4 linked regions of the Homo sapiens genome follow. The protein of the gene in region 3 interacts with the protein of the main gene of each other region in a biochemical or structural test. Each region holds a gene or a part of one and is shown on either strand. Other genes may lie near its edges. The genes, in order: SIN3B, MAML1, HDAC9 and MEF2B.

Region 1 (6,474 bases), on a different chromosome or scaffold from region 3:
TCTGGTTTGGTCTGGTCTGGTCTGGCTTTGGTCTGATTTGGTTTGGTTTTGGTTTGGTCTGATTTGGTCTGGTCTGGTTTTGGTCTGGTCTCATCTGGTCTGGTGTGGTTTGGTTTTGATTTGGTCTGATTTGGTCTGCTCTGATCTGGTCTGGTCTGGTCTGGTTTGGTTTGGTTTTGATTTGGTCTGATTTGGTCTGGTCTGGTTTGGTGTGGTTTTGGTTTGGTCTGGTCTGGTCTGGTTTTGGTCTGGTCTGGTCTGATCTGATCTGGCCTGGTTTGGTTTGGTTTTGGTTTGGTCTGATCTGGTCTGTTTGGTCTGGTTTGGTTTGGTTTTAGTCTGGTCTGGTCTGGTTTTGGTATGGTCTAATCTGGTCTAGTTTGGTTGGTTTTGGTTTGGTCTGGTTTGGTGTGGTTTGGTCTGATCTGATCTGGTCTGGTTTTGGTCTGGTCTGATTTGATTTGGTCTGGTTTGGTTTGGTTTTAGTCTGGTCTAGTCTGGTCTGGTCTGGTTTTGGTCTGGTCTAATCTGGTCTAGTTTGGTTGGTTTTGGTTTGGTCTGATCTGATCTGGTCTGGTTTTGGTCTGGTCTGATTTGATTTGGTCTGGTTTGGTTTGGTTTGGTTAGGTTTTGGTTTGGTCTGGTTTGGTCTGGTCTGGTCTGGTTTTGGTCTGGTTTGGTTTGGTTTTGGTTTGGTCTGGTCTGGTTTAGTTTGGTCTGATCTGGTCTGGTCTGGTTTGGTTTTGGTTTGGTCTGGTCTGGTTTTGGTCTGGTTTGGGTCTGGTCTGGTCTGGTCTGTTTGGTCTGGTCTGGTCTGGTCTGGTCTGTCTGGTCTGGTTTGGTCTGGTCTGGTCTGGTCTGTTTGGTCTGGTCTGGTCTGGTTTTGGTCTGGTTTGGGTCTGGTCTGGTCTGGTTTTGGTCTGGTTTGGGTCTGGTCTGGTTTGGGTCTGGTCTGGTTTGGTCTGGTCTGGTCTGTTTGGTCTGGTCTGGTTTGGTCTGGTCTGGTCTGTTTGGTCTGGTCTGGTTTGGTCTGGTCTGGTCTGTTTGGTCTGGTCTGGTTTTGGTCTGGTTTGGGTCTGGTCTGGTCTGGTTTTGGTCTGGTTTGGGTCTGGTCTGGTTTGGTCTGGTCTGGTCTGTTTGGTCTGGTCTGGTCTGTTTGGTCTGGTCTGTTTGGTCTGGTCTGGTCTGGTCTGGTCTGGTTTGGTTTTGGTTTGGTCTGGTCTGGTTTTGGTCTGGTTTGGGTCTGGTCTGGTCTGGTCTGTTTGGTCTGGTCTGGTCTGGTCTGTTTGGTCTGGTCTGGTCTGGTCTGGTCTGGTCGGTTCGGTCTGGTCTGGTCTGGTTTGGTCTGGTCTGGTCGGTTTGGTCTGGTCTGGTCTGTTTGGTCTGGTCTGTTTGGTCTGGTCTGGTCTGGTCTGGTCTGGTCTGTTTGGTCTGGTCTGGTCTGTTTGGTTTGGTCTGGTCTGGTCTGGTCTGTTTGGTCTGGTCTGGTCTGGTCTGGTCTGGTCTGTTTGGTCTGGTCTGCCCACAGCCTGTCAGGATTCTGGTCTCTTCATCCCTGTGTCATGCACTCTCCATCCTGATGTGTTTCTGGCCTTTGTCGACTTCCTCTGTGGGTGAGGTGGGGACTCCCGCAGGAGGCGGGGTGGCCGCACCACCTGCTTTCCTCCCGCCAGCTGCACCACCTCGTGAGCGATGACGTCTGCCTGAAGGTGGTGGAGCTCTACCTGAACGAGAAGAAGCGGGGTGCCGCTGGTGGGAACCTGTCCTCCCGCTGCGTCCGCGCTGCTAGGGAGACCAGCTACCAGTGGAAGGCTGAGCGCTGCATGGCCGACGAGAACTGCTTCAAGGTGAGAGGAGGCCTGGGGCTGGGAACACGCCGGGAGGCCCGGCCGCTCACTCCGCTCTGGACTCAGTCCTGGGTGGACCCTGGTTCAGCGGCTGGGACACCGGCCCTGCTGCAGAGCCCATGAGGTACCTTTGACCTGCAGGAAGCATCAGGGCTTTGGGAGGGTGGCAAAGGCGGGAGGCGGGTGGCCTTGCGAGCCTGCGCTGTGCCGGCTGGGCTGTGCCGGCAGTGGAGGCTGTCAGCGTTCCTGCTCCGCAGGTGATGTTCCTGCAGCGCAAAGGGCAGGTGATCATGACCATCGAGCTCCTGGACACCGAGGAGGCCCAGACGGAGGACCCTGTGGAGGTCCAGGTGAGGCCCTGGCCCCAGTCTGTGCCACGCATACCAGGGAGCGCCTGAGGGCAGCAGCATGGGGCTCCCACCAGCCAAGCGCAGGCCGCGCAGCATCCAGAGACCCTCCCTCTGCAGGCCACAGGCTCTCCTTGAGGCCTGGTGGGTGGGGTTGCCTCCCTCCCTGCTCCCCCACCAGGCTCTCTTCTGTGCCCCCTCTCCAAAGAGCAGACCACTCCTCCTGAGCAAGCGGTTGTGTCCCAGGGCAGGAGGGGAACCAAGCCACCTCTCCCTGGCCCCCGACTCCCACTCAGGGCATCCCGTGGCTGTGACCTCTGCACCTCTTGTGTCAGGGCTGCATCCTGTTCCTAATCCCCAGCAGAGGAGCCACCTGGGCCCAGCTCCCAGTCACAATTTTTGCGGGGACAGATGTTTCCTGCTCACCTCCCGCATCCTGGTGACAGTGAGGCATTGACCCGTGTGTGTCCCCAGGGTGGTCATTGGGGCCTGCAGCTCCCGGCACCTGCCAACAGGTCCAGTGTGTGTGCACATTACTCAGCTAGGCCAACCCCATTCATTTCCTGGGGCTACCACCACAATGACCACAAACCACGTGGCTTCAAACAACAGAAGTCTATTCCCTCAACGTCCTGGAGGTCAGCAGTCCACAACCACAGTGTGGGCCGGGCGGTGCTCCTGCCAAAGGCTCTGGGGCGGATCCTTCCTGCTCTTCCAGCTTCCGGGGGCTTCTGGCGCTCCTCAGCTGTGGCCTGGTTGTGTGAGTCCCGCTGTCACTGGGTCCTCTGTCAAGAGCTATAGTCTGTTGGGGTCTCCGTCAGGGATCAGAGTCCTCTGCAGCGGCTCTCCTCATGCTCTGGCAGTGGGGGGCACAGAACCCCTGTGAGCTCCTGAACTCAGAGTCCAGAGTAAGAGTGGCCATAGCCCTGCTGTAGGGGCATCACGGGCTGTGTCTCTCCCTGTCCCCAGCACCTGGCTCGGTACGTGGAGCAGTATGTGGGGACCGAGGGCGCGTCCAGCTCGCCCACTGAGGGCTTCCTCCTGAAACCTGTGTTCCTGCAGAGGTAAGAGGCCCTGAGATGCATGCTCTGTTCCTTCCTTCCTGGGCCCAGGGAGTGTCCCCTTTGTCCTGACGGGGGCTGGACCATGGCACACTGTCTGGGAGCACTTAGTAGGTGCCTGCTGTGTGCTGAGGCAGGCCCTGCCCTTTTGAGGCTTGTGGTTTGCAGTGGAGGGATTAGTAACCCCAGGACGGTGAGGTGTAGGAGGGGCAAGGCCAACCCCACGATGCGTCAGTGGGTGAAGAGTGAATGCCCGGACTGGAGGGAGACGCTGCCAGAGCTGGTGGGGCCAGGCCAGAGGCGGGTGGCTGTGGCAGGACCCTGGACCACCTCAGGTCGGGCTAGGATGGCACCTATGGGACCAGTGGGGGCTGCTGGTGGGTGTTCAGATCTGGGGGCATTTCTTGTTGCTTCCATTTGCTTTCTGTGGACCCCTGGGAGGTAGCACATCTTCTGATGGTCCCAGGCCTGGGGGTTTCCCAGCCTGCAAATCCTCCTCCCACAATGCCGAGAGCCAGAGTCCATTCCACCTCCTTTCGCCCCCAGGAACCTCAAGAAGTTCCGCCGCCGGTGGCAGAGCGAGCAGGCGCGGGCCCTGCGCGGTGAGGCCAGGAGCTCCTGGAAGCGGCTGGTGGGCGTGGAGAGCGCCTGCGACGTGGACTGCCGCTTCAAGCTCAGCACTCACAAGATGGTGTTCATCGTGAACTCCGAGGACTACATGTACCGTCGCGGGACCCTCTGCCGGGCCAAGCAGGTGCCAGGGGAGGCCTGGGCTGCCCCGACATGCCCCTCCTCACCCCAAGTCCTGGGGCCCTGGGGGTCCAGCCCTCAGCTGCCCTGACACCCGGCCTCTTCAACAGGTGCAGCCCCTGGTCCTGCTCCGCCACCACCAGCACTTTGAGGAGTGGCACAGCCGCTGGCTGGAGGACAATGTGACGGTGGAGGCGGCTAGCCTGGTGCAGGACTGGCTGATGGGTGAGGAGGACGAGGACATGGTACCCTGCAAGACGCTGTGTGAGACAGTGCACGTGCACGGCCTGCCCGTGACCCGCTACCGCGTGCAGTACAGCCGCCGCCCGGCCTCGCCCTGACCCGCCCTCATGGGCACCGGGCAGGCGCCTCACAGAGCACAGACGTGCCCTCGGCCTTGGTCGTGTCGGGGCCGTTTTCTTGAACGACGTGAGAGGCATCTCCCAGCCCCTCTGCTGCCGGACAGCGCACTCCAGGGCAGGACGCCGCCCCCGTGGCTCCCGGTCTCCTGTGGGCCTGCTGTGTGCCAAACCTGAGCTACCTGCACCCGAGCCCTGGGGCTCAGCCCCACCACAGGGGCGGGTGGACGTGCTGGCCGAGGAACAAGCAATCATGTTTGCGTCCCCGTCCGTCACATGTGCCAAATCCCTGGCAGGCAGATGGCTCCTGCCCCATATTCTTGCCGTGTCTTGGAAAAGTCACAGGTGACAGCCCTCCTGAGGCCCACACTTTGGAGGGGGTCCATGTCCAAGAGACCCTGACAAGGAAGGAGTTGAGCCCTGGGTAGGCTTGCTTGAAAAGTGAGTCCTTCCAGAATATTCTCAGAGCTGCCAGAAACATCATCTGAGGGTTTGGGCATCAGCTCTGCCTGGCTGGTGTTCAGGCCCTCAGTCACTTTGGAAGTGAGAAGAACCCTTCAGCCAAACCTTTGGGATCCCATTTTGAAGTCCAGAGCTGGAGCAGGCGGGCAGTGCCCTGGGAGACCCCGCTCTGGATAAGACACCCAACCCCAACTCCAGCAGCTGGACTCTGGGCCCACAAGGGGAGGGACCCCAGCCAGTATTCCCTCAGAGCCGGCACGACCCTGCTGTGGGGCGGCGGGCCCAGTCGTGTTCCTGCAGTGGGCACCCTAGGCGTATGTGTATACACGCACAGATATTTATTCCTTTCGCTTTTAGTGGTTGTTATTTCTGTAGCAGCCAAGTCCTGCGGCTCCCTGGGGCTGAGATCTCCCTTTGTGGAACTCCGAGAGCCGCCCTGACAGTCCCAGCCGCCACCCAAGGAGCCCCATCCGCCCACCCACCCTGGGACCCACGCGGCCACTCCAGGGATCATTGTTGTCCTTTTGTGAGGGGCTGAGGCGACTGTCCCATGGAGGCATCCAAGGCTTTCTGTGCCAAGAATCCCAAGTGACTGGGGCTGGGGACCACTTCTCCAGGCCTCTCTCCCCGACCATGAGAGCCCCTGGCCCTGGCCCCTGCACACCAGTAGGCCCAGAATAACCGCCACCCTTGCCATCCTGCAACAGCTGGACTCAAGTTTCCAGGAAGTGGAGATGTGTTTCTAGAAGTTTCCTGTGGAACCTGGAGGCTCCTGATGCCTTTGACTCCAGGCTGGGCGATTCCGATGCTGACCCGTCCTCCTGGGCTCCCCACCCCCGCTCCCCAAGTGTCACACAGGCACTTTGTACACATCCTGGTTTTCTAAGAAGGGAACTTGCCATCAAGATTCCTGTACCAGGCCCACGGCCGTCTCGGGCAGAGCCACCTGGGCCCCGGGTGCAGCCGGAGACCCCGCCGAGCCCCTCCTCCCAGTATTCCCATCCCCGCATGCTTCTAGGGAGCGCCTCTTTTCCGTTCTTGAGGAATTTCTGTTCTGGGGCTTGTCCTTCCTTTGCAGCTGTTTTGAATGTAGTTTTCCTTTTCTATTTATTTGCACATTAAAGTTAATAATTGAATATTGACATCAAGCCGTGAGGGTGTGTTGGTCTTCCTGTGAGAGCCTTGCTGACTTCCTGCCACCAGGTCAGTGGGCTGGACCCATGAGAGCAAGGGGTGGCTGGGTGTGCCTACCTGGGACCAGGGGAGTCGAAGCCCCTCCTTGAACCAAGATCATCTCACACCCTGCACCTGCCCCGCCACGACATGGGAGTGTCTTCTAGAATATTCTTTCCCCATTCCATTTGCACATTTAGTGGGAATTAGAAGCGTCTCCTTCGCCCGAGTGTCTCTCATGCAGAACCCAATTTAAAGATCATGGTGTTTGCTCTAAGGTGTTTGTTCTAAGCTTCCCATGCCCAACCTATCCGTCCAGGCCCATGCCTGCCCACCCACCCCACACGACCACCCTCTGTACTCCTTGGGGCCCCACCCACTTCCTGGCTTTCACCATCATTTTCTCCTCATCTCCTGCCCCCTGTCTGCATCCCAAGCTCCACACCTGCTTCCGGGTAGCAGAAGCCCCAGCTCT
Region 2 (6,984 bases), on a different chromosome or scaffold from region 3:
CGGTGTATGAGGGTGCTGATTTCTCTACATCCTCACCAACCACTTGTTATCATCTGACTTTGATTCTGGCCATCCTAGTGGGATCTCATTGTAGCTGTGATTTGCATTTTCCTAACCAGCTCTCCATTTTTTAAAAACAGGTATACCTACCTTTTAAAAAAGTCATTGCTCCCTAGATCTGTTTCATACTATTTAAAAACCCCAAAATGAAATCAGCACTATTTCCACAGGAGCCCATTTGTGAGTAACAAACTTGGATAAGTTACTTTTCTCTGACCTCCCTCACTCCCTTTGTTTTGGATTTTGTTATATGTTGGTTTTGTTTTGTTGTTCTTGGCATTTTCTAGGAGAAGCAACAGTTTCAGCGCCATCTGACCCGCCCACCACCCCAGTACCAAGACCCGACACAAGGCAGCTTCCCACAGCAGGTTGGACAGTTCACAGGTAGGGGGTGTCTGTGTGACGAGCAGGGACAGGGGAGGCCGCTGCCTGGTGCTGGTTGAATCCCTGCTGTCTGCCCAGCTCTATGCCTTGACTTCATCAGGCTGCATGCATTGTCATCATATACACCTCAGTTTGCCTAAGGGGCCTGGTTTTCTAGTTACTCCACGGCATCAGGAGAAGAGGGCACAGAGGCAAACCACTAGAACTACCTTTGCTGGGTCCCTGGCTGTACAGTTTTCTGAAGCAAAATCATTTCTAGTTGGAGGACATCTTATCAGCAGGAAATAGCTTCTGTAATTCTCAAGAAAGTTCTTTGCTTCTGCTTTTATGTGTCTTCAAAAAATGACTCCTATCTTCCAGATAAGGACTTAATGCACTTGCGTGGCCTTTGGCTTCTTTCTCTCCTCCTGTCTGCTCACTTGAATATCACAGATGGCAGCATCACTAGTGGACAGTTGGCCAGAAAAGGGCAGGAAGCACACTTGAGTCTAGCTGTCGCCTCTGAGATGTGCCAGGGAACTTCATAGGCCATCCCTCCAGAAATGCACAAAGATTTCAGGGAATGGATACAGGAAGCTCTGGTCTGCCCGCCTTCCTAGCTCCTCTCAGAATGTCTTAGAAACCTCTGTTTTTCCTTATTTGGGACCTTGCTATAAAGGGTCCCAGAGAGACTGACCACAGCTGTGTGTCCTGGAGGAGACCAGGTACGGTTTTATGTATGTGCTACCTGGGGTCAACGTGGGGTTGAAATCTGCAGGCATTTCAGAAGCATGGGTCTGACCCATGTTTTCTGCCTTCAGACCCATCTGACATTTTGTGGATTATTGATGGGAATGAAATAGCCGGTTTCAGCTCTCCTCTTTTCCTCAACCCAATTTCATTGTTGTTGTTTTGAAACAGAGTCTTGGTCTGTCGCCCAGGCTGCAGTGCAGTGGCACGATCTTGGCTCACTACAACCTCCACCTCCTAGGTTCAAGCGATTCTCCTGCCTCAGCCTCCCAAGCAGCTGGGATTACAGGCGCCTGCCACCACGCCCGGCTCATTTTTGTATTTTTAGTAGAGATGGGCTTTCACCATGTTAGCCAGGCTGATCTCACATACCTGACCTCGTGATCTGCCCGCCTTGGCCTCCCAAAGTGCTAGGATTACAGGTGTGAGCTACCGTGCCCGGCCCCAATTTTTATTATATGGTTGCTAGTAGAGAGGAAGAAGAACAAAGCACTGAGTTACGGCCAATCCCTGAACAATGACTCTCCTACCCACAAAACCTAATTCAGTTAATGGTGTTGTCATATGTCCATTGCTTAAGCCAGGAGGCCTAGACAGCAGTTCCCTGAGCATAGGGGTGCTTTCTCTTCCACCCTCTGCTGTCTCTCCAGCACAGCACCTGCCACAGAGTGGGTACTCAGTGAAGATCTGGTAATTTCCTGCGACTCCTCCCTCCTTTGGCCACCTTGTCATTTCATAGTATAAATGGTGTGCCATAAGATGGTATATTGTCTGGTGAGATGTTGTCACACAGTTCTGCACCTCCACCCCCCATTCCCACATGGTCTGCCCTCCCTCATCTCCGTGACTGAACAGCCTCTCCCCAGCATGGTCTCAGCCACACTCTCAGTCCAGCCACTCTTGGGCTTTACAACCCTGTTCTTTGTTTGTTTGTTTGAGACAGAGTCTTGCTCTTTCGCCTAGGCTGGAGTGCAGTGGCATGATCTCGGCTCACTGCAGCCTCCGCCTCCCGGATTCAAGCAATTCTCCTGCCTCAGCCTCCCGAGTAGCTGGGGGCGCGCGCCGCCACGCCTGGCTAATTTTTGTATTTTTAGTAGAGACAGGGTTTCACTATGTTGGCCAGGATGGTCTTGATCTCCTGACCTCGTGATTCGCCCGCCTCGGTCTCCCAAAGTGCTGGGATTACAGGCGTGAACCACCGCGCCCGGCCACAACCCCGTTCTTCACACGCCATCCACAGCTCTTCCCTATCTGGCCGGAACTAGCTCTTCCATTTTATCTCTAACCAGCTGGCCACTGTCTGCATATCCCGGCCACGGCCAGTCTCTGAAAGTTCCCCACACAGATGCCTTTTTCTGACTCTGCCTTTGCACACACTTGCCTGGAATGCTCTTTTTCCCCAAACTGTTAAATTGCTAAACTTCTGTGCTTTTAAACCTAGTGGATTCATCACTGTCTCTCTCAAGCCTTGCCCAAGGCTTCCCAGATGCCAGGGCTTCCAGCCTGCACCCTGCAGCCTGCTGGCCAGGCGCGCCCCATCGCGCCCCATTGCGCCCCATCGTGCCATGTGCTAACTTTGCCTCCCAGAGGCGGATCTTGCGTTGGGTCCACCTCAGAGTCCCCGGTGCCCACCACAGGGTCCCCACAGAGCAGAAATTTGGTGGGTGCTTGAAAGTTAGATGAAGTAGGTCACTGGTTTTCTCTCCCCTGGGGCTTTGCCCTTCCTCTGTGCCTTTCTGAACCCCATCATTGTTTCAGAGACCAGGCCTCCATTCCACCTGTGGAAGGCTTTCTGCCCCATGGCCCCCGGGGCCCTCTTCCCAGTGTGCCGTGAACGTGAGACTTCTGGTGCTGCGGCTCGAGTCTCAGAGGGACCCAGTGGTGGTCGACTCCTGACTGCCAGACTCTTCTCTGTCTTGTAGGGTCCTCTGCTGCCGTGCCCGGCATGAACACCTTGGGTCCATCCAACTCCAGCTGTCCTCGAGTGTTCCCTCAGGCTGGGAATCTGATGCCAATGGGCCCTGGACATGCTTCAGTTTCCTCTCTCCCCACAAACTCAGGCCAACAGGACCGGGGTGTGGCTCAGTTCCCTGGCTCCCAAAACATGCCTCAGAGCAGCCTCTATGGCATGGCTTCTGGCATAACCCAGATAGTTGCCCAGCCCCCGCCACAGGCCACCAATGGACATGCCCACATTCCACGGCAGACCAACGTGGGCCAGAACACCTCCGTCTCAGCTGCCTATGGGCAGAACTCTCTGGGAAGCTCTGGCCTCTCCCAGCAGCACAATAAGGGGACCCTGAACCCTGGTTTAACAAAGCCACCGGTCCCAAGGGTGTCACCAGCCATGGGAGGCCAGAATTCCTCCTGGCAGCATCAGGGAATGCCGAACCTCAGTGGCCAGACCCCAGGGAACAGCAACGTGAGTCCCTTCACTGCAGCCTCCAGTTTCCACATGCAGCAGCAGGCCCACCTGAAAATGTCTAGCCCGCAATTCTCCCAGGCAGTGCCCAACAGGCCCATGGCTCCCATGAGCTCAGCAGCTGCCGTGGGGTCCTTGCTACCCCCAGTGAGTGCACAGCAGAGGACCAGCGCCCCTGCCCCAGCACCACCCCCAACAGCCCCTCAGCAGGGCTTGCCTGGCCTGAGCCCAGCAGGGCCTGAGCTGGGGGCCTTCAGCCAGAGCCCTGCCTCACAGATGGGCGGTCGGGCGGGGCTGCACTGCACCCAGGCCTACCCTGTGCGGACCGCGGGCCAGGAGCTGCCTTTTGCCTATAGCGGGCAGCCAGGTGGCAGTGGGCTCTCTAGTGTGGCTGGACACACCGATCTGATCGACTCCCTGCTGAAGAACAGGACTTCAGAGGAGTGGATGAGTGATTTGGACGACCTGTTAGGGTCTCAGTAATGGAAGGATTTGTAGTGTTTTTAGTGTTCATTCATCCTATATTTTTATTCTCAGATTCAAAGAAAGAGCAACTACTTTGGACCAAAAGCCCATGGCCTGGGGAGCTGGGCAGGTAGAGCCCAAGCTCCAGGTGAGGCCTGGCCCTGGGCAGGGTCTGTGGCTGCGCCCCTCAGGCCAGCAGTTGAGGTCCATCGGGCTGGCCCCAGCCCATCTGCTGGCATCAGTACCTGGTGTTGGGACAGCAGGATAGGGTTCTAAAGGTGGTTTTCTATCCAAACGACCAAAAAACCAACAGTAACACCAGTGAAACCCCACACTGTCGGGCTTATAAAAATCTGTGCCATCATGGTGATTTTATCCAAGACTGCTCCACTTACCCCAGTGCTGGGGACAAGTTTCTGTTGAAACTTTAGATAGCAGAATTATTTGCAATTTGTAGCATAGAAAAGATTTTTAAATTTTTTTACAAAAGGTTTTTAAACAGATTAGGGTAGGTGATGGTTTAAATCAATTAAGTGGCATTGGAAACCTAGGGTTTCCTTTTGATTAAGAGCCTTTTTTGTTTCTGCTCTTTGTCAGCTTTCAGGGGAGAAGGAGGCCACTGGAAAATTATTTCCCTAAGTGCAGGCTGTTGACTGCGTATGCCAAAAAGGGACAGGAGGCATGGGATAGCAGGTCTGGTGACACAGCTAGGGTCTTCCTAGCAGCTCCTCCTCCTCCCTCCCAAGGCCCCCAGGAATCCCTTCCTCCCATGTCCTGGCAGCAGGACCCCAGGCTACATATGGAAGGTAGAGATGTGGGGGTCCTGTATCCTGGAGTATTATGTCTCCCCACCTTCTGCAGTTTTCTCTGAACATGTATGTTGCCCATGGTGGGAGCGTGGTCACTGTGCAGTTGTGCACAGATGTCTTTCCTTTACCGTTGGCCTTTCTGTCTGCCTCTCCTTCCTCTCTGCAGCCCAAATGGAAAACAATTATTTACTCCATTGGAGGGAAAGGAAGAGTCTTAGAATTCCTAAGGGAACCTTAGCATAAAGGTTTTGGGGAAGGAGGCCGTAGGCCGGCCCGGAGGAAGCAATTCCACTTGGTTTGACAACTTCTGCCACTCCCATGTCAGATGACTTGCACTTCTTAAAGAGATTGCTTTATAACACTAAGACATCCTTTCTAAAGATTCAAGTGGACTTGACTAAGCTGAGGGTCCACGAAATAGAATATGACATGTGAGCTGTTTTTGGAAAACGAAGATGGAGAGAGCACTTCCCCGTAACGAAAGCAAAGTGGTAAGCACAGGGTGAGACCCTTTTACACAGAATGGTGGAGAGAAAAGAGAATGCTGAAAAGTGGCTCAGATGCAGAGTGTTCTGTGGAGAAACTGCAGCCCCACTTCTGTTTCCCTGGAGTCTCCCAATGGATCATTCAGGAGTGTCCTATGTGAGAATTGAGCCAAGGAAAATACTCATGCAACCAGCCTGAGTCGCGGTGAGGGGACGAGAGGTTGTACACACATTGGTAGTTATTTTGCACCAGCAGTGCCTTTCTCACTGGGGGTACTTGGACCCTCAGATCTTCTTTTCTAATAGCCATTTGCCACCCCAAGTGGTATGTCGGCCATTTCTCCTTAAAACACCTTCCCTACCTTTCCCATGTACTCAGTTTAGCTCTCAAAGAAGGGGTGAATCATAAAGCCAGTGAAAATTTCACCCTCTGAGGGAGTTCCCCAATCTGAAGGGGAAGAGGGTGACCTCAGCGGCTTTTCTCCCAAAAATCGGCTGAAGGCTGGTTGTGGATCCTTGTTCCTCTCCTGACCCCATCTGGCTGCTGCCCCGTCTCCCACCCCTGTCCCCGGGGCTCGCTGGCCCTGCACTCCGCCTTAGTCCTGGGGCCGGCGACACAGTGGGGGCTCCTCACTTGCTGCAGTGTCATAGCAATAAAATGTGATTCTTGGGGTCCCCCCAGGGAGCTGCCCATGGCTTTATTTATGAACCTGGTTTTCGGGAGTCAGGGGAGGAGATGACTTTGCTTCTGTGCACAGCCCCGTCTTCCAGGAGCCACAACTCAGAAGAAAAGGGTGCTCAGACTTTTGTTATACACATTTGCTTTGTGTAAATAAATGTTTACAATTTTATATGAAAGATGGAATAAGCGCTAGAGCTTCCAACTGTATATTTTTTACTTTTATAGATTTTAAAACTATGATCCTTTATATGTGTGTTTTGGGGGAGCTATGATAAGTTTTATGGCAAACGGTTGGTATTGTTAACTTTTTATTGTCATCAAAAGTTCATAAAAGTCCTATTAATCCCCATATTCTTCTACTGCCCTTAACTCTGGTATACACCAAAAAGAAATCTTTACTTTCCTTGTTTTATCATTATAAAAATAAAGTATTTTGCTAGTATGGAAACAACCTTTGTATTTGACGTCACCTGGGGTCTGCTGGCAGAAGTTTGGGGATTGGTTTTCTTTTGTAATTTAGCTGCTTGCTTTTCTTGGTTTTTTAATTTTTTCTTTTTAAAGAAATGCTTGTCGAGTCATAGATTTAGCTGCTTTCTTATTGCACATTGTTGGGTGGGAGCTGGTTTGGTTGAAGCCTCAGAGGAGCTTCTGTTATCTGCTGATAGATACTAAATTAGAGCTAGCATCACCCTGAGAAAGCAGGCTGGCCCCAGGACTCACGGGCGTCCATGCAGCTGATGGAGGGGAGCTGGACCGGACGACTGTGCTCTCTTAGCTCTAGCATCACCCTGAGAAAGCAGCCTGTCTCCGGGACTCACGGGCATCCATGCGGCTGATGGAGGGAGCTGGGCCGGACGACTGTGCTTCTCGTGCTTCATGTAGAACCCTTAGGTTTGCCCCTGAAGTCTGTCTGCTCCATGTACTATTTAGTTGCTTTTCAGCATAGAG
Region 3 (7,662 bases):
GAGATTGATTTTAGAAGAAAGCCTATTATAATCCAGAAAAATACAACTTGAACTCCATAATCTCAAGTGTTGAAATCCCAAAAGATGAAAATATAATTCTGAAAGAAATAATAAAACATTCTTTATATTTATTTACATTTTAAAAGGGGGTTTATTTGAGAAAAATTAAAACAAAACAATACACTGTACACGATAAAATAAATAATGGCACATATTTTTACAAGCAAAAACACTCAGGTATACTAGCAACAGTCACACCAGTATAACAGTTATGATGCAGACAAACCGTATTTATAAAGAAATAGGTCAAAAATGGAAATGTATAAATGCATATCACTGTGGTTGATAATTGTGTGCACCCAGCTTTATATAACTGTAGTCATCTTAAATTTCCGGATGAAGAAGCTAAGCTTTTTGGCAAGATGGATCAAAAAATTCAGTGGGTCAACAACACGCATATAGTTACCCAAAGAACCGAGATCCTGATAAATTTTCTTTCACAAGCGCAGATGTACAAAATCTTTCTTTCATTTATTGAAGAAATTTCGACATGTTTGGGTTCAGAAGTACTGCTTATATGCAAAGTCAACGTTGTGATAATGCAGTTCTCGTGGAATCAAATTTCTGATGTCCAAGGCATTCGAAGAGAAGCCTGCCCTAGTTCTCAGACAGAAACCAGTTCACCTCCTGTGTCTGTTCTATATGGGTCCCCGGCAGATCGGATGGTGCCTGCTAACATTGAGGGGAGATCTTCTTCACCTAATCCACTCAAACTCACACTAATGTCATCTGGAAGCACCCTCACAGACACACCCAAAAAATGCTTTAATAGGTTTCTAAGTATTTAATCCAGTGACATCTCAAATTGAATCCACAGGTCCACCCCTTGTCAACTTGGCTCCCGTAAGTCTCTCCTTAACCATACTTAATTTCCAAGTAAAGACTGTAACAGCCGCCTAACATGATGCAACTAACATGATGCAATAATCCTGCATACGACCAAAAACTAATCGCTTCACCAGAATGCAGCTTTCAAGATTTCATATTTGAGATTTTAATATTTCGAGATTGTTATTTTCAGGATTGTAGACGTGAGAGATTTTAGACCTAAGGGATTTAGACCTTAGGGATTTTGTATCTTTTCAGATTTCAACATTCAGGATTATGGCATGTGGGATTGTGTCTTTCAGGATTGTGATCTAAATCCATTTTAGAAAAGGTCATTGTGAGCTAGAGGTCTGAGGATATTTCTGGAAATATTTTGGTGCCATACAGGTTTTTTAATACTTTTTTTTTGCTTATATGTCTGCATAGAAAGAAATTGGATTATGGTAACTTTGAAATAACATTTTACATTAGGATTTAATTCCCACTTTCATTTACTATTAAATTGAGAACCTGAGATTTTTTTGGCCCTTGTTACTTTTTTTACCTTTTTCTTTGACCTATGTGTATATAACATATAATATTTGGATTAGTTTGCAATAAATGCTTACTTAATTGAATTTGAATTTGTTACATTGAAACTTTTTAAACTACCCATCTACCTAGCCTGACATTTGTATTAGCTTGTTATAGTTCTTGTAATAGAACATATATCTTTTTCCCCCACATTAGTAAACTGTAGTTTTATAAATACCCCAAAAGAAACTGAGTCACATTTCTTTACTAACATTACTGAGATGATGTGGGAAGAATTAACTCAACATTCTTAATAATGGAAATATGGTAATCAATATAGTTGATGGTTGTTTTGATGATACTTATTTTTCTTCTGAGAAACAAGTGGGGTTTTTTGTAAGTATCCAATGTCTTTTCACTCTAAAATATTTTTTCATTATCAAGAGTTAAATAAAAGAGAAGATGGCTGATGGAAAAACATACTGCAAGAATGCAGGGATGAAACGTAAATAAACCTCATGTTAAATAATGGTCAAAATGAAGAAGACACATTATTTACAGTATTTTATGTGGAATGCCCTTTCCTGGATCCTTTAAGAACTAGGATAATTACTAACTCAGTCTTCTGGAGTTTTATTCTATTTTTTATTTTTTATTATAAAAGCTGAGAGATCTTTTTTTATCAATTGTTGTTTGAAGGTGTAATTTAAACTTAAAAAGACAAAAGATGCATAGGCATATTGTATCAATATGGTGATTTTGTTATCTCTTTTGTATATTCATCATAAATTTTTGTATTCTGTTAAAAATCACTCTGAAACAGACAGTGGGTCCATTTTTCATCAGTAGATCATATTAAATTTTATTTGGAATATCTCAGATAATGATTTGTATCATTTTGGTAAGGGACAAGATGGTGAGACTGGATAATATAAATGCTAGACCTATATGGTTAGTTATTAATTACCTGTATTTCCTTAAGCTACTGTCTTTAAAGCCTGACTCCAATAGTGAGTCCTTTTGTAATCAAGCCTCCTTCGTTTCCTCATGAGTGAATTTCAATGATTGTTTTTCTTAATATAAGAAGTTCTTGTTCTGATCTCACCACAAAAAAAATGGTAACTAGCTGAGATGATAGATTTGTAGCTTGATTATGGTAATTATTTCACAAGGTATAGGTGTATCAAATCATCAAATTGTACACCTGAAATATAAAGAATCTTGATTTGTCAAATATACCGCAATTTAAAAAATGTTCTTTACATAAATGTTTTGTAGAATAAAAAAAAAAAAAGTTCTTCAAAAGAAATCTCAAATCTCCAAATGGAAACAGGTAAAAGTGGAGCTCCCCTGGTTCCACGGAGAACCTTTTTTGAGGAAACTTAGGCAACTCGCAGGTACCTTATGTCATGAGACAGAGTTTGAAAACTACAATTGACTATCTCTAAATTTCCTCCCAGGTCTAAAATGTGATGATAGTTACTACTTCAGTACATCATCCTTAAGGAAAATTATTAGGTCCACACTGTTTCTATCCTTTGAATTTTACACATAAATTTTGTAATCAAAAGTTTATTTGTAATATCAGATGGAATCAGATAATTGCTTTTTGTTTTTTCCACTGACAGGAACATAAGATTTTGTTGTGTAGCTTAAGTCAAACGCAGTTTGGAATATATATTTTTTAAAAATTGTAACTTACATATCCAAATACAATTTTTCAAGAAGTAGAGTATTCAGTAGAAATTAATCTGTGAAAGAAGAGGAATTCAGCAGTGGCCTATTTGATGAATGATTTAACGTGCTTATTTCTTCCCTTTCATCAAAACTCTGTGTCCCCTTGTTTGCCCCCTCTGACTTCATACTCTGGAGTTGACCAAGATCCCTCTTCCATCGGATTGTTCTGGGAATTTTGAAATAATCTGCTTTTTCCTCTCTTTCCCCTGTTGCTTCTGATGCCTTAGAATTACATTTTCCTCGCTGATTTAGTTTAGAAAAGAGAAAAGAGCTTCCATGACTAGTAGATTATCACTTTTGGGTTTGCTCTTGGAAGTGACAAGATGCTAGGATCCCTCTTTGGAATGTAAAATTTATCTCTTATATAGAAAGGATATAAATGTAGCACCAGAGACTATAAAACTCTGATACTATCTACTGTACTGTATAGCTGAACGCCACAATGTGTCTGGTAATCTATTGACTATCATAAATGCTATTTCTACAGAAAAGTTAGGAGGTCCATATTTCGGGCAACCAATGTATAGCTGAATGCAGAACAGTCATAGTTGGGTACTAACCATATATATGATTTATCCATCAACAGGTGCATATGCTCAGAAATTCTGTATCCATAAGAAATCAGACTACTTTCTTTTCCTTTTGCAAGTAAATTGAATTTAGCCTGAGAGGCTGAGGGGAAATTTTCACATATAAGCCACGGTTTTGTGTTTTGTGTTTTGTTTTGTTTATAGATATAGTACTAACTGGATGGATGCGATAAAATTCATAGGTGGTACTAAGATACAATAGGATTTGTGAAATGGACAATTGTCTTGCATAAATAGCAAGTAAAAAATCAAGCCTGTCCTTCATAAAAATTTTATTCTGGGGTGTGCTTGTTTTCCAAAAGTACCTCTGCTAAATCTCCTGTTAGTCCTGAAACTAGAAGGCAGAAAAGCTTCTAGTGCTACAGCCAACTGCAGTGTAGCCTGAGAAACAGGCAACAAAAATAGAACACCAGGATTGCTGTGCGTGGGTGAGGCAGAAACCACATTATGAGCAAAAGCTTCCAGTATTATTTTAGAACCAATACAGAGCTCTGTACTTCTCTCCTCTCTCTTCCAAAAACACATACTACAAAAATAAAATGAAATGAAATGTATGTGCATTTGCCCTCTTAGAATTATGATTCTTAATTTTTTTTCTTGCCTTCCTTTCTTTGGAAGCGAATCGCCAGTATGGAAACACAGTGTGTAAAGCAAGCTTCGAGAGAGGAAAGAGTTAATTGGTTTTAAGGCCCTGCGATAGAGAATTATGGTTGGAAAGATAGAGGCTGGACAGCTGGGTTTGCTGGGGTATTTTTAAATGCATTAATGCAGGCTCCAATCACTCGGCCATGCTTGACCTATTTTTGGCTCAGGCCGACCATTGTTCTATTTCTGTGCCTGTGGGCCATGCTGTTGTTGATTCATATGCAAATGGATTATCACTCGCTTTAGCCAACTTGAGCTGAGAGAGACTGAGAAAGGGGGAAGAGAGGCACAGACACAGATAGGAGAAGGGCACCGGCTGGAGCCACTTGCAGGACTGAGGGTTTTTGCAACAAAACCCTAGCAGCCTGAAGAACTCTAAGCCAGGTTTAATTGGTTTCTTTTTCTCGTGGGTAGACTTAATAATTTTCTACGTATTCTGACAAAGAAATAACCCCGAAGCACGTTCCTATTTCCCACCTGCTTGTAGTTTCCGGGATAACCTAAACTCCAGAGAGCTATAGCATCCACTCTGTCCTTTCTGCTTTGCACACAGGTTGGTAACATGGGAAAAGTGTCCAGGTCTTTTTAAAAGTGGATGCCCATTTGAGCAGAAAGGAAATCATTGTCGAAGTTGATCCTCTGCTGCTTCTCCTCAGGGAGGAGGGAGAACCAGCGAGGGTAGCTCCTGGGGCCGGTGCACTGAGCAGTGATGAATGTTTCATGTAGCTGAAGTAAGAGTGACTGGAATATGCTGCAGACAATTTACGAGAGTGACTCCTGTTTTTCCTCAGATGGGGTGGCTGGACGAGAGCAGCTCTTGGCTCAGCAAAGAATGCACAGTATGATCAGCTCAGGTAAGATCCTCTTTCATAACTGAGACGTTTTAGGTTTGAAAGGGGGCTGGCTTGGGAAATGCAGCTAAGAAAAGCACCTCTCTTAAGGAAATTGCTGCTTTTTCGTGTTGATGTTGCTATTTTCTTGGTGCGTCTGTAGGGTTTAACTTAGATCCCTTCCATTACTGTTTCTGTGCATATTCAGTCTGCTTAGGGACAGCAGCTTCTGAATGAAATTGCAAACTATTGCTTCTGATGAAAGATGAGACTGAGATAAGTAAAATGTAGTTGGGGGTGTTTTGCCTTTACTATGCAACTAGAAAAAGGAGCTGTGTACTGATTGTAAGCCTATTCTAATAGGACTTTAAAAATCAGGTAAGTTCATATTGGGGCTTCAGTTTAAACTGCAGCCCCGCTAGCCTGACGATTTTATATTTACTCTGTGCCTACAGAAGCACATCTATTTATAGACCTACCTTCTAAAATGTGTTTGCCACAGAGTTATAAAGGTAGTTTTCTTTTTTCCATTATGTGGCTTTTTCTCATCAGCCCCAAATGAAACTGTTTAGGATGAAATAAAATTGTTATTAGCAGATGCTTATTTTAATTTTCTTCAAAAACATGTGGGAAGTCTAGCATTGTCAGGCAGATGTGATGGCATAACACACATGTAAATGTGTTAAAAGCAGGTGCAGCGTTTTAAAGGATAATAGGAACAGATTCTAATTTCTAGTTTCTCAAGGAGATGAGCTGGTGGGAGATTGAGCTTGTCAGCCTTGTCAATTTATACTTACTAAATGAACATACTCTCCAGGCAGTATCACTTAACGTGTAATTATTGCCTTTCATATTTATTTCCTATGGCTATTTCCTAAAGCTTTGGGAACTCTTTGTTTCTGTCCTCTTCTGAATGTTTCAACCTAAAATTGGCTTAAAGTTCTCACTTAGATCCCACTTCCCATGTGGGCTTAATCGTAATTATAGATCACCGCCTAGATTTCCATGATAAGAATGCCACATAAAGCAGTGTTTACTTTGTAGAGCTAGGTGTGAAAGAAATATTCCACAGGTTGGCATGATGTCTGTTTTGGTGTTAATACACCTTCCCATATGGGGATCTATGTTTAAAGCTAGTTTTCTTTAAACCTTGGTTAGTTATGTTAATTTTAAGATCCTTCTGTTGACCCAATCTTTTCATGGAATCAGAATAAAATATCAATTTTGCATAATTTGGTATTTATACACTTAAGTGACAGGAATTATGTTAATGAATAGTGCCTGCTTAACAAAAGCAAACCTACCAGAATTTCAGTACAGTTTATTCTTATAGCTGCAAAGCTGACAAGGGCTCCGGGAGGGTTTAACAGGTATGTCTCTAATGGGACTGGTCATTTAACTTAGCATTTTATTTTTTAAAATATGGATGAACCCTTTGAAAATAACTATTTTAGAAATCTTTTCAGCACTATGCTTTATCCTTTTAGTCCTCACTTCTGTGTTACAAGTTTGATATTTTTTTTCATATGGTAGAAACATACATGCCTTCCAAGTAGCAAGTGTCTGCTGAAGCTAAGGCTGGCTACAGGTGTTTGCAAGCTTTGCTTTTTTCTCCACATCTTTGATAATCACATACAGCTTTACACCCATTTCAGTAGAGATTGTCATTTTCCTAGCATTTAATGGTTTGTGTACAAAGCAACAAGATTTTCAGACAGGGAAGTGCTTCAGGCTGTCCATGCTTTGGCCAGTTCTACAAGAAGCAACATTTAAGCAGCAGCTAGCTATTAAATGAAAAGTGATGTAGGTTAACATCAACTCCCAAAACCTGTCTGGTATAAATACATAATCACTAAGTTCTATTTATTTTTAAAATGTGAAGCATAAAAACAATTACACCCTTCCTGCCATGCCATATATTTCATATATGTTCTTAAATTTAATTCACCTAGTCTTTATTGTATACTTCCTGTGAGGCACTGGCTCTCAAAGTTGGACTCACCAGAAGCACTTTACAAAATATGATACCTAGATTCCACTCCCAGAATGCCTGGTTTAATTGGTATGGGGAACAGCCTGGGGATTGAGGTTTTTAAAATCTCCCCACCTTAACCTTCAGCAAACTGAGATTCACTGCTGTAGGGCTAGGGAACAGATGGTGATGCTGGTGAACCACTATCAGTAGGGTTTGTCCTTTGAGCTAACTGCTAAATTAGGGGTATGTTTGTCTTAATTTAGCTACAAATCTTGTTCAGCTCCCTTTTGGACCAGTGGTCTGGACGTGATTCATAGGCTTAGAAGCAGAGTCTTTGGATTTGAAAGAGAGAAAGGATGCCTGGCAGCAGTGCAAAGGAGTGGAGAGAGCACTGTTCTAGGAGTCAGACACTCTGTATTCTAGCATGAGCTCCACTGCTAGCCGATTGTGTACTGATTTTTTTACTCATCTTCAAACTGAAGAA
Region 4 (7,593 bases), on a different chromosome or scaffold from region 3:
TCAGGAGGCTAAGGCAGAAGAATCGCTTGAACCTGGGAGGTGGAGGTTGCAGTGAGCCGAGATTGTGCCACTGCACTCCAGCCTGGGCAACAGAGTGAGACTCTGTCTCAAAAAAAAAAAAAAAAAAAAAATTAGCTGGGTGTGCTGGTGTGAGCGCGTATTCCTAGCTCCTCAGGAGGCTGAGGCAGGAGGATCACTTGAGCCCAGGAGGCAGAGGTTGCAGTGAGCTGAGATCACACCACTTTACTCTAGCCTGGGCAACAGAGCAAGATGCTGTCTCAAAAACAAAGAAAGAAAGAAAGAAAGAAAGAAACCTCTTCCAGAAGGCCAAACACCCAACATGTCTACACTCACTGCACCCAAGTTGGGGTGAGCAAATGTTTTAAATTCCCCTTCTCTTCTTAATTTGCATTTTCCAGATGTCCACCTGGTTGGGTCATAGTTTAACCAAATAAATCATTCGTTGGGATGGGAAAGCCAAGAGTGGGTTCAGCTTGCTCCGCTCACAGGAGCTGCCACAAAGTTCAGAGAGGGGCAGCCACCTGTTGGGGGGTCACACAGAGAGGAGGGAGAGGAAGCTGGGCCTCGTGACCCCAGCCTCTGTTCTCTTGGGGGACTGAGGCATGGCCTTGAGCTCCATCCTTTTTTGAGGGGCCTAGTGTTACTACCTGGCCTCAGCCTTCCCTCCTGCAAACCAGCTTCCTGCTCTCTAAGATGACATCCCAAGATCCTAACTGTCCTGAAATTCTGTTTGCTGGAGGCCAAGCTTCCCCCTTTACTGAACAACAGGAAGGGGACATGAGGGAACAAGCCTGCCTTTTTAGAAAGCCCTTTTCATCTCTGGAAATCAGTCCTCACACACTGGTTCTCCGAAGTCGAAATACTTTTTTGTATCCAGTTTCCTTCACTCCAAGAGTCTGAGAGTTCTTGTCCCGAATGCCCAAGGTCCAGGGGCCCTGCCCTTCCCCAGGGATGATTCTTGGCCAGGCTAGCCTGAGGCCTTGATTATTGTTTTGTTTCTTTCTTCTTTTTTTTTTTTTTTTTTTTTTGAGATGGAGTTTCACTCTTGTTGCCCAGGCTGGAGTGCAATGACACGATCTTCGCTCACCACAACCTCCGCCTCCTGGGTTCAAGCGATTCTCCTGCCTCAGCCTCCTGAGTCGCTGGGATTACAAGCATGTACCATCATGGCCGGCTAATTTTGTATTTTTAGTAGAGATGGGGTTTCTCCATGTTGGTCAGGCTGGTCTCGAACTCCTGACCTCAGGTGATCCGCCCGCCTCAGCCTCCCAAAGTGCTTGGATTACAGGTGTGAGCCACCGCGCCTGGCCATTTTTTTGTTTCTTTTCTTTCTTTTTGTTTTTCTTTTAGAGACAGGATCTTGCTCTGTCACCCAGGCTGCAGTGCAGTAGCTCAGTCATAGCTCACTGCAGACTCGAACTCCTCGGATCAAGTGATCCTCCTGCCTCAGCCTCCCGAGTAGCTGGGACTATACACATAAGCCACCACACCTGCCTAATTAAAAAAACAATTTTTTTTGGCCAGATGCGGTGGCTTACTCTTGTAATCCTAGCACTTTGGGAGGCTGAGGCAGGCAGATCACATGAGACCAGCCTGGCAAACATGGTGAAACAACGTCTCTACAAAAAATGCAAAAATTAGCTGGTCATGGTGGCACACGCTTGTAGTCCCAGATACTCGGGAGGCTGAGGCAGAAAATCAATCACTTGAACCTGGGAGGCAGAGGTTGCAGTGAGCCAAGATTGAGCCACTGCGCTCCAGCCTGGGTGACAGAGTGAGACTCTGTCTCAAAAAAAATTTTTTTTTAAAGCCAGGTGCAGGGGCTCACGCCTGTAATCCCAGCACTTTGGGAGGTTGAGGCAGGTGAATCATTTGAGGTCTGGAGTTCAAGACCAGCCTGGCCAACATGGTGAAAGCCCATCTCTACTAAAAATACAAAAACTAGCCAGGCGGTAGTGGCACGCGCCTGTAATCCCAGCTACTTAGAAGGCTGAGGGAGGAGAATTGTTTGAGCCTGGGAGCTGGAGGTTGCAGTGAACAAAGATCACCACTGTACTCCAGCCTGGGCGACAGGATGAGACCCTGTCTCAAAAAAAAAACAAAGAAAGAAAAGAAAAGAAAAAGAAAATGGGGGTCTCACTATGTTGCCCAGGCTGGTCTCAAACTACTGGGCTCAAGTGATCCTCCTGCCTCAGCCTCCAAAGTGCTGGGATTACAGGCATGAGCCACAGTGCCCGGCCAGCTATTTCTGACTAATTGGGTCTGCAACTAGGGGTTAGGGTGGCCAAGGACACAGGTCACCCATATCTGCAGCCCTGGACCCCAAAAGAGATAGGGAGGGAGGACTGTGACCGTGAAAGTAATGCTGCCACCACCTTGTCATGTGCTAACAACCACACGGGGATGTGACTCTTGTTCCTGTACCCATTGAGGCAAAGGGAGGAGAGTTGGCCCCGGCAGCTGTTGCTCCCCCGTTCCAAGGTTTTGTGCCTACCATCCTGCTGTGACAAACGAGTGTACACCCACAGCAAGAAGGCATAGGGTTGTGCACAGGGGATGCGCTAATGCTAAAGGAGTGCACACCAGGAGAGAGGGACATCACATGCCACATCACAGAGCTCACAGACACATAATAGGGCCTCACAGCACCATGATTTTGGACACACAGCTAACTCTCCAACTCCCCAACTCACACCAAATCTCAGACGCAGAGCCCTTGGACACACAACTTCCAGACCCACACCCTTCAGACACACACCCCTTGGAGACACAACCCCCTCCTGCCACAACCTCGGGGACTCACCACCCCACGACACACACCCCTTTAGACACACACCCCACCCTGGGACGCCCAGCAGTACACCCGGACCTCCAAAACCCACCCAGCCCGCAGAAGCCGTTCAGAGGACACCACAGGAGTCTCAACCCGATATGACACGCACCTGCTCGGCCTGGGCCCTGGGACGCTGGGCGCACGGACCCGCGGCGGCTGCACGAAGATCAGGGGCCCGCGGCCGCAGGTGCCTTGGGAGCGGGCGGTCCTGCCCCCGGGAGCTGATTGGGCGGGACGGGCTTATTTGCATACAGGGCGTCACCCTGGAGGCGGCGATGGGCGTGCACTTGGGCGTGGCCCCGACCCGGGAGTTCATGGGCCTGGGACTCAGACGCGAAAGGATGCTGGGGCGCCATGGGTGGGGGCGCGGATAAGGAAGAAGCAGAACGGAGGGAGGGGGCTGGATCAGACTGGCCAGGCTTTCCCCGCCCTCACTGGGCGCCCTTGACCTTACTGCCGACCCCTGACCCTACTGTGACCCTAACCCTAATTCTAAACCTTTTCCTAACTCGGCCCAACTTGCCTGGATTGATTCCATCCTGAGTGAAATAGACTCCGATCCCGGACCCCGTCGCCCCGAGGAACCAAGCCCTTCTCGCAGGCAACGCTGACCCTCGCGCTCGCTAGAATGGAAAGACTGCAAGACGGGGCTCTCGGGTGGCCTGTGTGGCCTCACTCAACTGTGCCTCCTGGGGCCAGATATGTGCTCCCACAGGGAGTGACAGACCCTCCGCAGCTACTGGTCCCTCAAGCCCGCACCGCCTGCCCCTCCACAGTCCAAGACAACCACACTGCTTCCACCAACCACTTCCCTCTCCTTACCTCTCCCCGCTAAAGGCTGTTTTCTAAACTTCAAAGGTCAGCTGTGAGGGGCCTTCCAGGATTGGACCCCAGCCCAGAACTCTAAATCCACCCCTTCCCCTGGGATCCCAGCACAGGCCAGACCCACAGGAAGATCAGAGCAGGGGTTGGTGAATGTATCAATGTGAAAAGAATTACAGGATAAAGATGGCTCTGGGATGGGCACTTCTGGAGAAGCCCCCGGCCCGTCTGGGGCAGGCAGGGGATCCATGCACTCCCCTAACCCTGTGGGGTCAGGCTTGGGCCAGAGGAGGGATGGGAGGCTGGGACAGGCCAGAATTGGGGCAAGGGCTGTGCCAGAGGAGTCAGGGAGGGTTTCTCAGAAGAGAGGGCATTTGTGCTGGGCTTTCAAGTATGTGTAGGAGTTTGCCACTAGGAGAAAGGTTTTTCTTGTTTTTTTCTTCAAGGCAGGATCTCACTGTGTTGCCCAGGCTGGAGTGCAGTGGCATGATCATAGCTCACTGCAGCCTCGACCTCCTAGGCTCAAGCAATCCTCCCAACTTAGCCTCCCCAGCAGCTGGGACTACAGGCAGGCCACCACCAGGTCCAGCTAATTTTGTTTTTTTTAAGAGAGGATGTCTCACTATGTTGCCCAGGCTGGTCCCAAACTCCTGGGCTTAAGAGATCCTTCCTCCTCGGCCTCCCAAGGTGCTGAGATTACAGGTGTGAGCCACTACACAAGACCCGAGAAGGGCTTTTTCAAGAGGGAAAAGCACTTGCAAAAGTGCAGAGGAAGAGCATAGAACATTCTCTGGCCGGGGAAGATGAGGAAGGTGAAGCCAGTATAGCGGGCAGGGGGTGAAGAGGAGGGGCAGATACAGGTGGAGAGCAATGGGGCTGCAAAGCTGCCTGGTGTCCATCTCCTCCAGAGAAGAGAGGGGCTGGTCCCCCAAACTCAGGGGGAGGCATGTGGCAGATGCTGGAGTGTGGGGGACACTGAGACAGGGAACAGGGGGCCTGGGAGGCTTGTGTCTCTCCCCACACCTCAGTTTACCCGTCTGTGACATGGGCAGTGTGGGCCTCTAGTCTGAGCACAACTTTCTCTTTGGACATGAAAACTATAGAGTTCATACTGTGTCATCAGTGGGTCCCTCCTGTCCCCATCCAGTGCCCAGTGCCATACACTGGGGTGCCCCAAGGACATGCCAGGGCCTGGGCCAGGCTGGGGGCTTCTGCCTCCACTCCATGGTGCAGAACAAGGCTTGGGGAGTGTGGAGGTGGCTGGGGAGCCCTGGGCCCCCGGAGGGCTGCTCTGTTTACCGGAGGCCACCCGCCCACCTCTGATGCAACAGGCAGGCTCTGGTTACGTGAGGCCGGCAGCTGGGCCAGCTCTGGGGGAAGGGCTAGCCCAGCAGAGCGAAGCTGGCTGGGGCTGGCCCTTATGCACCCCAACTCCCCAGCCCCCTCCTTCTGGTGGGCACCATCTTGTTATTCATGGTCTGTCCCGTGTCCTTTTGCCTCTGTTCCTATCCTATACCTTCCCCAACCACTAATTGTGTCCCCTAGCAGGGCCACCAAGAGTCTTAACCTCATTCTTCTCAGATGAAGGGACACCCTTAGTTGCTAGAGTAAGAGGTTGGAAGGTAGAAGGGAAGGTTGTGAGGAGGAAGGGATAGAAGGGTCCAGAGTGGGTGGTGAGGGAGAAGAGTGACCTGGGAAGCAGGTCTGGGAGATGGGGGAGGTGGTGGGTGGGGGATGGAGGAGAAGGCTAGGGTGGGAGGCTGGGGGAGGTGGAGAAGCTGCCCCCGCTGTCTCCCTCCTCCAGATTCTCTCCCCTCTCCCAGGAGAAGGCTTTGAAGGACCTTCCATGATAAGGATGTGTGACCCAGTAGGTAGGGAGGGCCCTGAGGTTAAAGAACCCTGAGTCCCCATCCCAGCTGTGCCGCCCACTCACTGTGTGACCTCAGGATGGTCACTGCACCCCTTGGGGCCTCTTTGCTCATATGAGAAGTGTGGATAGGCTGGGCGCGGTGGCTCACGCCTGTAATCCCAGCACTTTGGGAGGCCGAGGTGGGTGGATCCCGAGGTCAGGAGATCGAGACCATCCTCACTAACACGGTGAAACCCCGTCTCTACTGAAAATACAAAAAATTAGCCAGGCGTGGTGGCAGGCGCCTGTAGTCCCAGCTACTCGGGAGGCTGAGGCAGGAGAATGGCGTGAACCTGGGAGGCGGAGCTTGCAGTGAGCCAAGATCGTGCCACTGCACTCCAACCTGGGCGACAGAGCGAGACTCTGTCTCGAAAAAAAAAAGAAAAAAAAAAAAGCCAGGCATGGTGGCACACACCTGTAATCCCAGCTACTCAGGAGGCTGAGGCAGGAGAATTGCTTGAACCCGGGAGGTGGAGGTTGCAGTGAGCCAAGATCACGCCACTGTACTCCAGCCTGGGTGACAAGAGCAAGACTCTGTCTCAAAAAAGAAAAAAAAAAAAAAAAAAAGAAGAAGTGGGGATAATAGGAGCCCTTAAGGCCCACCTCCAATGTTCCCTCCTCCAAAAGCCTTCCTATCCTCTTACCACTTAGGATCCTTCCACCTCCCCACCCTTCCTTCCAGCTTAGCACTGATCCAGGGGGCGGGGTAGAGTATGTGGCTGGTTCTGTGTCCCCCAGCCTGGGGGTTCCTTGGGCCCGGGCCCAGTGCATGGTGGCACCAAAGGGGTGTCTCCACGGGTTTCTTTCTTTTCATTTTTTAGAGACAGAGTTGCTCTGTTGCCCAGGCTGGAGTGCAGTGGTACAATCATGGCTCACTGCAGCCTTGAACTCCTGGGCTCAAGTGATCCTCTCGCTTCCATCTACCAAGTAGCTGGGACTATAGGAATGCACTACCACACCTGGCTAATTTTTAAATTTTTTTTTGAGGTGCACTGGGTGTCTCGCTTGTTGCCCAGGCTGGTCTCGAACTCCTGGGCTTAAGCGATCCTCCTGCCTTGGCCTCCAAAAGAGCTAGGATTATGGATATGAGCCATTGCGCACAGCCTCCATGGGTTTCTTGAAGAACTGGAGAATCTCAAAGAAGGTCTAAGCAGTGAAAGGGAGTGGGGGATAAGCCTGGGGCACCCAGAAGCCTTGTTCAGGGATACTGTAGGGAAAAGAAAAAAAAAAAAAAAGGCTTTCCAGGGGCCTGAGTGTGCAGGACTCTCCGGGAACCCAGAGGAGTAGGTCTGAAATAAAAACCAGGACTCACACCAATGGCTAAGGACAAAAACCCAGCGGAAGTCTGATTCTTGTCCTGACCACTGTGGACGGAGCAGGGGGCAGGTCGCTGCCCTGTATGGGTCTCCTTTTACCCCATCTGCAGATCAGGGTTGGGATCCTTTCTGGGTGATCTCCAGCCTCGTGAGCACTATGCTTCTGTTTGGATGCCCCATGGCACGGAGAGCTCACTGTCTCTCTTCTAGCTGCCTATCTCTGGAGTTCTGCCGGGAGTTAAATTTTTTTTTTTTTTTTTTTTGAGACGGAGTCTGGCTCTGTCGCCAGGCTGGAGTGCAGTGGCGCAATCTCGGCTCACTGCAATCTCCACCTCCCGGGTTCAAGTCATTCTGCTGCCTCAGCCTCCCGAGTAGCTAGGATTACAGGTGCTCACCACAGCCAGCTAATTTTTGTATTTTTAGTAGAGATGGGGTTTCACCATGTTGGCCACGACGGTCTCAATCTCCTGACCTCGTAATCCACCCGCCTCGGGCTCCCAAAGTGCTGGGATTACAGGCGTGACCCACCATGCCCAGCTGGGTGTTTTTTGAAATGGAGTCTACCTCTGTCGCCCACGCTGGAGTGCAGTGGCGTGATCTCGGCTCACTGCAACCTCCACCTCCCGGGCTCAAGCGATTCTCCTGCCTCAGCCTCCAGAGTAGCTGGGGATTACAGGCATGCACCACACCCA

Evidence for each region.
Region 1: the proteins of HDAC9 (region 3) and SIN3B form a complex in vitro, tested with the Homo sapiens proteins (one study listed by BioGRID).
Region 2: the proteins of HDAC9 (region 3) and MAML1 form a complex in vitro, tested with the Homo sapiens proteins (one study listed by BioGRID).
Region 4: the proteins of HDAC9 (region 3) and MEF2B are reported together in a solved structure, tested with the Homo sapiens proteins (one study listed by BioGRID).

Annotation. Positions count from the first base shown.
Region 1 is NC_000019.10:16,874,382-16,880,855, forward strand, and holds the end of SIN3B (paired amphipathic helix protein Sin3b), read left to right. Parts: intron 1-1,673; coding exon 1,674-1,847; intron 1,848-2,104; coding exon 2,105-2,197; intron 2,198-3,163; coding exon 3,164-3,258; intron 3,259-3,801; coding exon 3,802-4,009; intron 4,010-4,115; coding exon 4,116-4,346; 3' UTR 4,347-5,968; downstream 5,969-6,474.
Region 2 is NC_000005.10:179,770,800-179,777,783, forward strand, and holds the end of MAML1 (mastermind-like protein 1), read left to right. Parts: intron 1-347; coding exon 348-444; intron 445-3,095; coding exon 3,096-4,078; 3' UTR 4,079-6,484; downstream 6,485-6,984. UniProt on the Homo sapiens protein: Acts as a transcriptional coactivator for NOTCH proteins. Has been shown to amplify NOTCH-induced transcription of HES1. Enhances phosphorylation and proteolytic turnover of the NOTCH intracellular domain in the nucleus through interaction with CDK8.
Region 3 is NC_000007.14:18,491,098-18,498,759, forward strand, and holds the start of HDAC9 (histone deacetylase 9), read left to right. Parts: upstream 1-4,651; 5' UTR 4,652-4,926; intron 4,927-5,164; coding exon of another isoform or gene 5,165-5,205; coding exon 5,206-5,227; intron 5,228-7,662. UniProt on the Homo sapiens protein: Responsible for the deacetylation of lysine residues on the N-terminal part of the core histones (H2A, H2B, H3 and H4).
Region 4 is NC_000019.10:19,167,242-19,174,834, forward strand, and holds the start of MEF2B (myocyte-specific enhancer factor 2B), read right to left. Parts: upstream 3,023-7,593; 5' UTR 2,964-3,022; intron 1-2,963. UniProt on the Homo sapiens protein: Transcriptional activator which binds specifically to the MEF2 element, 5'-YTA[AT](4)TAR-3', found in numerous muscle-specific genes. Activates transcription via this element. May be involved in muscle-specific and/or growth factor-related transcription.